3 linked regions of the Homo sapiens genome follow. The protein of the gene in region 3 purifies or fractionates together with the protein of the main gene of each other region. This does not show direct contact. Each region holds a gene or a part of one and is shown on either strand. Other genes may lie near its edges. The genes, in order: PPM1A, UBAP2 and HAO2.

The links.
Region 1: the proteins of HAO2 (region 3) and PPM1A purify together in Homo sapiens (affinity purification with mass spectrometry; 2 studies listed by BioGRID and IntAct, with this or other methods). This does not show direct contact.
Region 2: the proteins of HAO2 (region 3) and UBAP2 purify together in Homo sapiens (affinity purification with mass spectrometry; 2 studies listed by BioGRID and IntAct, with this or other methods). This does not show direct contact.

Annotation. Positions count from the first base shown.
Region 1 is NC_000014.9:60,280,123-60,283,776, reverse strand, and holds part of PPM1A (protein phosphatase 1A), read right to left. Parts: intron 1,094-3,654; coding exon of another isoform or gene 1,074-1,093; coding exon 240-1,073; intron 1-239. UniProt on the Homo sapiens protein: Enzyme with a broad specificity. Negatively regulates TGF-beta signaling through dephosphorylating SMAD2 and SMAD3, resulting in their dissociation from SMAD4, nuclear export of the SMADs and termination of the TGF-beta-mediated signaling.
Region 2 is NC_000009.12:34,042,361-34,046,014, forward strand, and holds part of UBAP2 (ubiquitin-associated protein 2), read right to left. Parts: intron 1-3,654. UniProt on the Homo sapiens protein: Recruits the ubiquitination machinery to RNA polymerase II for polyubiquitination, removal and degradation, when the transcription-coupled nucleotide excision repair (TC-NER) machinery fails to resolve DNA damage. May promote the degradation of ANXA2.
Region 3 is NC_000001.11:119,375,230-119,378,883, reverse strand, and holds part of HAO2 (2-Hydroxyacid oxidase 2), read right to left. Parts: intron 1-3,654. UniProt on the Homo sapiens protein: Oxidase that catalyzes the oxidation of medium and long chain hydroxyacids such as 2-hydroxyhexadecanoate and 2-hydroxyoctanoate, to the correspondong 2-oxoacids.

The sequences.
Region 1 (3,654 bases), on a different chromosome or scaffold from region 3:
TTATTACAAAGCTCAAGTAGTAAGACTAAACATTCAGCTTATAACTCTTGCAGAGATGGTAATTGGGTAATTTATTTCTACATAGTGGTCCTATGATATATTTTCATAATTGGTGAACAGTATCCTACAGTTGTGCCAAAAACTGGTTTCAGAATTACAGATTCTAAGATGATTAAATACTAGAGTAGTGATTAATATGGCATAAAATCATTTTATGTTTTTAAAAAAAGTCTAGCTACCTTATACAAACAGGTGTCGACTACTTCATTGCAAACTTTCTCAAGGTCATCAGTGACTTCAAGTCTGGATCTTACAAAATCACAGAGCTCTTCATTTCCCATAACATCCCAGATACCATCACATGCAAGGATAATGAACTGATCATCTTCTTCAGATCTTTCAATATCATGGACTTCAGGCTCTGGTGAGACAAGCTGCTCAGTAGGACCTTTTCCATGGACACATTTGTAATCAAAATCCCCAAGGGCCCTCGATACAGCCAGAGAGCCATTCACACGCTGAATCATTACAGAGCCACCTGCATTCTGAATTCGTTCTTTCTCCAGCGGATTACTTGGTTTGTGATCTTGTGTGAAGAAATGAACTTTCCTGTTCCTACAAAGTAAACCTCTTGAGTCTCCACAGTTAATGAAATAAGTATGTTGGGGAGAAATTAAGACACCTACAGCTGTTGACCCACTTCTATCTGCACCATGTTTCTTCTCTGACATAACTCTCATGTGTTCATCAATCTCCAGAAAACCTGTTCTGATTCCATTCTTTACATTTTCCACAGAAGGTGCTCCTGCAGACCCTTTAAAATCCTGGTTATTGGTGATGTGATCTAACAAATGCTCACAGCAGTATTTGGCAACCTGAGAACCAGCATGCCCATCATACACAGCAAAGAATGACCACGATTCAAGTCCACTTGGCAAACCGATCACAGCCGTATGTGCATCCTCCATTTCAACACGCCAGCCTTGCATGCTGCTTAGCCCATATCGCAACCCATTACCCTGCCCCTGGGCATTATGCTTTTCCATCTTTGGCTTGTCTAAAAATGCTCCCATTATGTCTTGATCCTCTAGGTCTGCAAAGGAAGAGAAACAGGAAAGTCAATAACTGTCTTATAAACAAAATATGTACCAAACAATCTTTTTAATAAGTGAAAGAGATATGCGGGAATTCACAACTCGCGATAAGCAGACATTCATTGTGTTGCTGACTTGGAATCTGGAGATTAACAAGGAGGAACTGGGGGAAAGCCTGATGAAGCACAGATCACAACAGACAAAAAGGCAGAAAAAAACTAAAGCATTGGGATAAAGGGGAGAAGGCAGAAAGGAGACCTGGCAGTGGCCATCAACTTAAACCAACCAGGCTAAATGTTTAATGATACAATGAACATGTGTAAGCTCAGGACTAAGTTGTATGTATATCAATTAAGAAAAGCCAAACGAATTCATGACATACCCAAAAAATCTACTAACTCAAATATATCTTGGTTGAACATTCAGGAATTTTCAAGCTTGATTCCAAACTCCCTAGTTTTATTCCCACTGCATGAACTCTGAAAAACTAAAAAATAATCTACTCACAATGCTCCAAATTTGCATGCTCCTTCAAGCCTTTGCTCATGTCAGTTTCCTTAACTGGAAACTCTTGCCTCATCCTATTTATAGAAAAAAGTATACCTATCCTTTTAAGTCTACCTTACATTCTACCTTTTCCATGAGGTTTTTCAGTTTTTGATAAAGTCAGTTAAGTTATTAAATTACTGTAAATGTTGTAGCCTCAAATTTCAAGTTGCAAGCAATTATATATATACATAACGAAGTGTACTGTATACATATATAACAAAATTACTACTAGTAATCTATTAATCATATAGTAATAACATGTACCATTATTATTATACTCTATGACCATTAGGTATATAAAGAAGATCAAAGGGTCTAGTGACAGCCCTGCTGACAAGCCTGAAGGCTCAGCTAATCTAATCCTTTTCCAATACTCAAAAGTTAACACCCGCTGGTCTAGAATGGGCCCACACAAGGCAAAGAGACAGCTGGTTAGAATTTACCTTGGCCCTTACTTGAACAATAGCTTAGAAATGTAGACACCTGGGTTCAAGTAATCAAGTAAGTCACAACTGAACTAAAGGCAATCCAAAAGAAGGATAGCATGATGAACAGAGATTTAATGGAGGTGAAGAGGAGTTAGGTAGTAGGGAATAATGGTGGAGAAAAGTATCTAGGTAAATCACTACGCAGCTCTGAAACTAGGGTATTGATGATGCTAATGATACTCAGCTCAGAGAGGAAACTGGGAGAAAAAGGGCAAGAAGAAAATCCTCCTAGGAAGGAAAGAAAAACATTTGTTTTCCCCTTCATTTTCCTTATAGGTCCAAACTGATACATAGGCAGAAAAGACTGGCTGATTGGCGTGATAAAACCATCTGCCTACTCCTCTGCCTCCTAGTACAGTTCAACTAACGAAAGGTAAGTAATGAAAACTAGCTATCATCCATCCCTTATGGTGATATTTATCAGATTATTTTTCTGACATCAAGTTGATACACACTGCAAAGGTGAGTATTTTGATTGGATAAAGGATAACGTAATAATGACACCTTATTAGCAGGCAATGTTTAAGAAGTATTCTAAGTCCCTCTGGTAAGTGTTTTACAAGCATTACTTCATTTAATCTCTTCAACAACTCTCTAAGGTAGATAATAATATTATCTCCAATTTATAGATGAAGAACCTTAGCCAAGATTAAAGAACTTGGCCAAGATCACTCAACTAATAAGTTTAAAGGAATCAGGGCTCTGATTCAAGTCTGCGTGACTCTAAAGCATCATTAACCCCTAAGAAAATGGGTCTCTACCATGGCTGTGCAACAGAATTATCTGTGGACTTTTTGAAAAATAAATATTTCCAAATCAGAATTTCCAGGGTAGGGTTGGAACCTAGGTATCTATGATTTTTAAATTTTCATATGTGATTCTGAGGCACAGTAAGGTTGCAAACTGCTGGAAAAGATTAGATGGAATGCCTAAGGCAGAAGATGGGGGCACATTAAGGGCCAACAAGAAATAATCAACCAAAATTGCAGTAACCAAGACCACTATCCTAGGTTACAAGACCACTATCCTAGACTAGAAACAACAAGGTGAAGTTTTACAGAGGAAAGACTCCACTACCTTGAGAAAAGGAAAGAAAAAAAGAGACGTGAGTGAAACTCAAAAAATTAAACACATTTAAGAGACAAACCAACAGAAAAGAATAGTAATGACAAACTTCCTTCCTCTACGAATTCACCAATAGCATGAAGTACTAAAGAAAATAAGTTATGAAATTAGACCAATGTGGGTTTAAATTCTGGCTCTACTACTTAGTAATAGTGTGACTACTGAACCTTTCCGAATCTCTTTCTCCATCTGTTCCTGTATAAGCATATAAGAAGGCAGCCAGGTGTGGTGGCTCACGCCTGTAATCCCAGCACTTTAGGAGGCCGAGGTGGGTGGATCATGAGGTCAGGAGTTCTAGACCAGCCTGGCCAATATGGTGAAACCCCGTCTCTACTAAAAATACAAAAATTAGCCAGGCATGGTGGCGCATGCCCGTAATCCCGGCTACTTGGGAGGCT
Region 2 (3,654 bases), on a different chromosome or scaffold from region 3:
CGAGCTACTCGGGAGATGGAGGCTGGAGATTCGCTTGAACTTGGGAGGTGGAGGTTGCAGTGAGCTGAGATCGGGCCACTACACTTCAGCCCAGGCGATAGTGCAAGACTCCGTCTCAAAAAAAAAAAAAAAAAAAGGAACAGTAGAACCTGCAGAGTGACTCATACCTATAATCCCAGGACTCTGGGAGGCCAAGCAGGAGGATCACTTGAGTCCAGGAGTTCAAGACCACCCTGGGCAACATAGCTAGACCTTGTCTCTATTTTAAAACAACAACACAAAGGAATAGTAAACCTATAATGTAGGGTAATGGTTACCTCAAGGAAAGCGAAAAGAAATGCCTTGGGAGCTGGCATACACAGGAGACTTCCAGGTAGCAGTAATGTCCTATTTCTTGGTTGTTCATTTTACTTTTTTTTTTTAATTTTACATATGGGGCCAGGCATTAAGCTCACACCTGTAATCTCAGCACTTTAGTAGGCCAAGGCAGGAGGATCACTTTAGCCTAAGAGACCAGCCTGGGCAACATAGCAAGACTCCTCTCTACAAAAAGAAAAATTAGCTGAGCATGGTGATGCATCCCTGTGGTCCAAGCTACTCAGGAGGCTGAGGTGGGAGGATGCCTTAATCCTGGGAGATAGAGGCTGCAGTGAGCCATGATCATGCCAAGACACTCCATCCTGGGCGACAAAGCAAGACCCTGTCTCCAAAAAAAACAACTCTACATATGTGTTTACCCCCAACCACCTTCTACGTTATACAATGACAACTCTACATGTTTTTATGCCTCATATATCATCTACGGTATGTATGCTGTTTTTTGGGTTTTTCTTCTGAGACAGGGTCTGTCACCCAGGCTGAAGTGCAGTGGCACAATCACAGCCCACTGCAGTCTCAACCACCCAGGCTTAAGCAATCCTCCAACCTCAGCCTCCTGAGTAGCTGGGACTACAAGCACACCATGCCCAGCTAATTTTTGTATTTTTAGTAAAGACAGGGTTTTGCCACGTTGTCTAAGCTGCTCTCCAACTCCTGGGCTCAAGTGATTCACCTGCCTCGGCCTCCCAAAGTGCTGGGATTACAGGCATGAGCCACCACACCCAAACTATGCTGTATTTTTCAATAAAAATCAGCAAGTATGCAAAGTATGATCCTATTATTTATGGAGATAGGGTCTCACTCTGTCACCCAAGCTGGAGTGCAATGGCACAATCATAGCTCACTGTGGCCTCAAGCAATCCTCCCACCTCAGCCTCACAAGTAGATGGGACTCTGGGTACATGCAATCATGCCCAGTTAATTTTTACATTTTTTTTATAGAGACAGGGTCTCACTATATTGCCCACGCTGGTCTCGAACTCCTGCTCAAGAAATCCTTCCACCTCAGCCTCCCAAAGCGTTGGAATTACACGCAGGAGCCATGGAGCCAGGCTCCAACTTTTTTTTTTTTTAAACATATACTCCATGTTTCAGGGGGAAAAAAAAGGCCAGGCACAGTGGTCCACAACTGTAATCTCAGCACTTTGGGAGGCCGAAGCAGGTGGATCACCTGAGGTCAGGAGTTCAAAACCAGCATGGCCAAAATGACAAAATCCTGTCTCTACAAAAAATACGAAAATTATCAGAGCACGGTGGCAGGCTAATCGCTTGAACCCAGTAGGCGGAGATTGCAGTGAACAGAGATCACACCACTGCACTCTGGCCTGGGTGACAGAATGAAACTCCACCTCAAAAAAAAAAAAAAAAAAAAAAATTAGCCGGGCGCGGTGACTCACGCCTGTAATCCCAGCACTTTGGGAGGCCGAGGCGGGCAGATCACACACGAGGTCAGGAGATCAAGACCATCCTGGCTAACACGGTGAAACCTTGTCTCTACTAAAAATACAAAAAATTAGCCAGGCTTGACAGCACACGCCTGTAGTCCCAGCTACTCGGGAGGCTGAGGCAGGAGAATGGCGTGAACCTGGGAGGCGGAGTTTGCAGTGAGCCGAGATAGCGCCACTGCACTCCAGCCTGGGCAAGAGAGCAAGACTCTGTCTCGAAAAAAAAAAAAAATTAGCTGGGCGTGGTGATGCATGCCTGTAGTCCCAGCTGCTTGGGAAGTTGAGGCACAAGAATCACTTAAGCCAGGGAGGCAGAGGTTACAGTGAGCCAAGGCACCACAGCACTCCAGCCTGGGCGACAGAGAAAGACTGTCTCAAGAAAATAAAAATAAAAGAAGAAGCCAGGTGTGGTGGCTCACGCAAGTAATCCCAGCACTTTGGGAGGCCAAGGCAGGTGGATCACCTGAGGTCAGGAGTTCCAAGACCAATATGGCCAACATGGTGAAATCCCATCTCTACTAAAATTACAAAAATTAGCCAAGTGTGTTGGCAGGCGCCTGTAACCCCAGCTACTCAGGAGGCTGAGGCAGGAGCATCACTTGAACCCGGTGGGCAGAGGTTGCAGTGGGCGAAGATCGTACCACTGCACTCCAACCTGGGTGACAGAGCGAGACTCCATCTGTAAATAAATAAATAAATAAATGAAGAGTATTACCTAGTCTTAAATAAAACACCTACTCTACTCCTTAATGTGAGCCCTATTTCATACTTCAAATCCAAATAGTTAACTGGATTCCAATTCAATTATGCTATGTCCAGCATGAAAATTAGTTATCAAAAAATGGAAACTTATCAAACATTGTTTACAAACGGGTAAAAAAAGGCTGGGCGCCGTGGCTCACCCCTGTAATCCCAGCACTTTGGGAGGCCGAGGCGGGCGGATCACGAGGTTAGGAGATCAAGACCATCTGGCTAACACTGTGAAACCCCGTCTCTAATAAAAATACAAAAAATTAGCCGGGCGTGGCGGCAGGCGCCAGTAGTCCCAGGTACTCGGGAGGCTGAGGCAGGAAAATGGCATGAACCCAGAAGGCGGAGCTTGAAGTGAGCCGAGATTGCACCACTGCACTCCAATTTGGGCAACAGTGAGACTGTCTTCAAAAAAAAAAAAGGGTAGAAAAAAATAAAAATTAAAAAAAAAATTTTTTTTTGAGACGGAGTCTTGCTCCATCCAGGCTGGATGAAGTCCAATGGCACATGGCTCACAGCAACCTCCACCTCCCAGGTTCAAGCAATTCTACCGCCTCAGCCTCTGGAGCAGCTGGGACTACAGGCACGCGCCACCACACCAGGCTCATTTTTGTATTTTTAGTAGAGACGGGGTTTCACCATGTTGGTTAGGTTAGTCTCGAACTCCCGACCTCGTGACCCGCCCGCCTCCGCCTCCCAAAGTGCTGGGATTACAGACATGAGCCACAGTGCCCAGTCACAAAAGAAAATTTTTAAGGAGCATCTTTGAGAAACTTAAAAAATGTCAAGTAAACTCAGCAGGAAATATCAGCATAAGTGGTTTACATTAAAATTGTAAAAACTAATCTGATAAATTTGATTCTTTGAGTTAGTAAAAAAAGGATCCTATTCCTAAATACTTGATAGTTGGGGCAAAATTACTTCAAAATCTACCACAAAGATTACATGGTGATATTCCCTACATGTCCTCCCTCTCTTTGCCTTCCTTCAGGTTGTATCTCCACTCTTTGGAAAAAACGGCTGCTTCTAAAATCTATCAGAGATCTACTAACTTACCAGTCAACACCATGGGTACCATAAC
Region 3 (3,654 bases):
ACTTGAATTTAACATTCCCCTGCCTGTCATTTATCTTCATTATTGGATGAGAATTCTCCACCAGGTTTCAACTCCTGATATCTCAATAAATACACATATCCTATACATTACACACTCATAGAAAGGCTGTTCTACACAATTCTAGCATATAAATGCCACAAACATTATGTCTAATCCAGAAGAAATGGCTCATGCTCACTCAGAGTCATGTGTCTAGAATAGTGTCAGTTATGTGATTTGAAAGCTGCTTGGACATAAAGAATCAACCCTAGCATCTTATATATAACAAACACTATTTTATCTCATTTCGATACCTCTTCTAATTTTTCCTTAGACTCTTTTCTATCTACAGCTTTTTCTCAGTGTCCCTGTGAAGAAGACAGAGAAGGTATTAGTCTTCCTACTTTGCATTTAAAGAGACTGAGGCCTCAGAAATAAAATAACTTGTGAAAGATCAGTGATATGGTTTGGCTGTTTCCCCACCCAAATATCTTCTTGAATTATAGCTCCTATAATCCCCACATGTCATGGGAGGGGCCTGGTGGGAGGTAATTGAATCATGGGGCTGGATTTTCCAGTGCTGTTCTTGTGAGAGTGAATGAGTCTCATGAGATCTGATGGGTTTATTTATTTATTTATTTTGAGATGGAGTCTCACTCTGTCGCCCAGGCTGGAGTGCAGTTGGTTCTGGACTCATGTGTTCTGGTAGCTTCTAAAGATAGACATTCTCTATTTTCAATTTAACGTAAAGAACAAAATAGTTGGTTCTCATAAATTGCTTGCTATATTTAAGAGAATTTTCTAGGTTTAAAAATACAATTATGCATTTTTTTCTTTTTATAATGTATGTAAAGCTTAGCATGATCTCAGCTCACTGTAACTTCTGTCTCCCCAGTTCAAGCAATTCTTCTGCCTCAGCCTCCTGAGTAGCTGGAATTACAGGCATGTGCCACCACACCCAGCTCATTTTTGTATTTTTAGTAGAAACGGGGTTTCACCATGTTGGCCAGGCTGGTCTCAAACTCCTGACCTCAGGTGATCCACCCACCTTGGCCTCCCAAAGTGCTGGGATTACAGCCATGAGCCACCATGCCTGGCCGAGCTGATGGTTTTATAAAGGGCAGTTCCCTGCATGTGCTCTCTTACCTGCTGCCATTTAAAACATGCCTTTGCTCCTCCTTCACCTTTCACCATGATTGTGAGGCCTCCCCAACCATGTGGAACTGGAAGTCCATTAAGCCTGTTTTTCTTTATAAATTATCTAGTCTGAAGTATTTCTTTTACAGTATGAAAATGGACTAATACAGTAAATTGGTACCTGGTAGTGGGACGCTGCTATAAAGATACCCGAAAATGTGGAAGTGACTTTGGAACTGAATAATAGGCAGAGGTTGGAACAGTTTGGAGGGCTTAGAAGAAGACAGGAAGATGTGGGAAAGTTTGGAACTTCCTAGAGACATCTTGAATGGCTTTGACTAAAATTTTGATAGTAATATGGACAATGAAGTCCAGGCTGAGGTGGTCTCAGATGGAGATGAGGAACTTGTTGGCAACTAGAATGAAGGTGACTCTTGCTATGTTTTAGTAAGGAGACTGGCAGTATTTTGCCCCTCCCTTAGAGATCTGTGGAACTTTGAACTTGAGAAAGATGATTTAGAGTATCTGGCAGAAGAAATTTCTAAGCAGCAAAGCATTCAAGAGGTGACTTGGGGGCTGTTAACAGCATTCAGTTTTATGTATTCAAAAATATATGGTTTAAAATTGAAACTTATTTTTAAAAGGGGAGCAGAGCATAATAAAAGTCTGGAAAATTTGCAGCCTGATGATGTGATGATAGAAAAGAAAAACCAATTTTCTGAGGAGAAATTCAAGCTGGCTGCAGAAATTTGCATATGTAACGAGGAGCCAAATGTTAATTGCCAAGACAATGGGGAAAATGATTCCAGGGCATATCAGACATCTTCTCTGCAGACCCTCCCATCATAGGACTGTAGGCCTAAGATGCAGGGCACCAGGGCCTTGCTGCTTTGTGCAGTCTCAGGACTGGTTGCCCTGTGTTCCAGCCATGGCTAAAAGGGGCCAAAGTACAGCTCAGATTGTAGCTTCAGAGGGTGCAAGCCTCAAAGCTTGGCAGCTTCCACATGGTGTTGGGCATGTGGATGTGCAGAAGATAAGAACTGAGATTTGGGAAGTTCTGCCTAGATTTCAGAGGATGTATAGAAACACTTGGATGTCCAGGCAGAAATCTGCTTAAAGGGGCAGAGCCCTAATGGAGAACCTCTGCTAGGACAGTGCAGCAGGAAAATGTAGGGTTGGAGCCTTCACACAGAGTCCCCACTGGGGCACTGCCTAGTGGAGCTGTGAGAAGAGGGCCATCATCCTCCAGACTCCAGAATGGTAGATCCACTGACAGCTTGCACTGTGCACGTGGAAAAGCCACAGACACTCAACATTAGCCTGTGGAAGCAGCCAGAAGAGAGGCTGTACCCTGAAAAGCCACAGAGGCAGAGCTGCCCAAGACCATGGGAACCCACCTCTTGCATCAGTGTGACCTGGATGTGAGATATGGAGTCAAAAAGATCATTTTGGAGCTTTAAGATTTGACTGCTCTGCTGGATTTTAGACTTGCATGGGGCCGTAGCACCTTTGATTTGTCTAATTTCTCCCATTTGGAATGGCGGTATTTACCCAATGCCTGTATCCCCATTGTATCTAGGAAGTAACTAACTTGCTTTTGATTTTACAGGCTCATAGGTAGAAGGGACTTGCCTTGTCTCAGATGAGACTTTGGACTGTGAATTTTTGAGTTAATGCTGAAATTAGTTATGACTTTGAGGAACTGTTGGGAAGGCATGATTGGTTTTGAAATGTGAGGACATGAGATTTGTGAGGGGCCAGGAGTGGAGTGATATGGTTTGGCTGTGTCCCCAACCAAACCTCATCTTGAATTTTAGCTCCCATAATCCCCACATGTCATAGGAGGGTCCTGGTGGGAGGTAATTGAATCATGGGGGAGCGGGTTTCACCATGCTGTTCTCATGATAGTGAAAAAGTCTCATGAGATCCGATGGTCTTATAAAGGGCAGTTCCCCTGCACACACTCTCTTGCCTGCCACCATGTAAGACTTGCCTTTGCTCCTCCTTTGCCTTCTGCCATAATTGTGAGGCCCCTTCAGCTATGTGGAACTGGGAGTCCATTAAACCTTTTTTTCTTTATAAGTTACCCAGTCTCAGGTATTTCTTCATAGCACTATGAAAATGGACTAATACAATCAGGTAGTAAGTTATTATGAGAGATGGTTCTGAACTCATGTGTCCTGGTAGCTTCTAAAGATAGACATTCTCATTTTCAATTTCAGGTAAAGAACACAATAGTTGGTTCTCATAAATGACTTGCCATATTGAACTCGAGATAATTTTGTAGGTTGAAAAATACAATTATATATTTTTAATATAATATATGTAAATCTTAGTAGTCTATTATTTTGGTTAGAGGTTTAATATAAGGTTTATAATTAAAGAAAAGGATACCTTCCTTGTTCAAAGCTTTTCCTAAATTTGGAAGTGAAGAACTTAGCACAATATATTTGTATATACTTTCTTTCAATTTGATCCCTACCAGCCTTGAAGCCACCAGAAATTAAAGGGAAGATT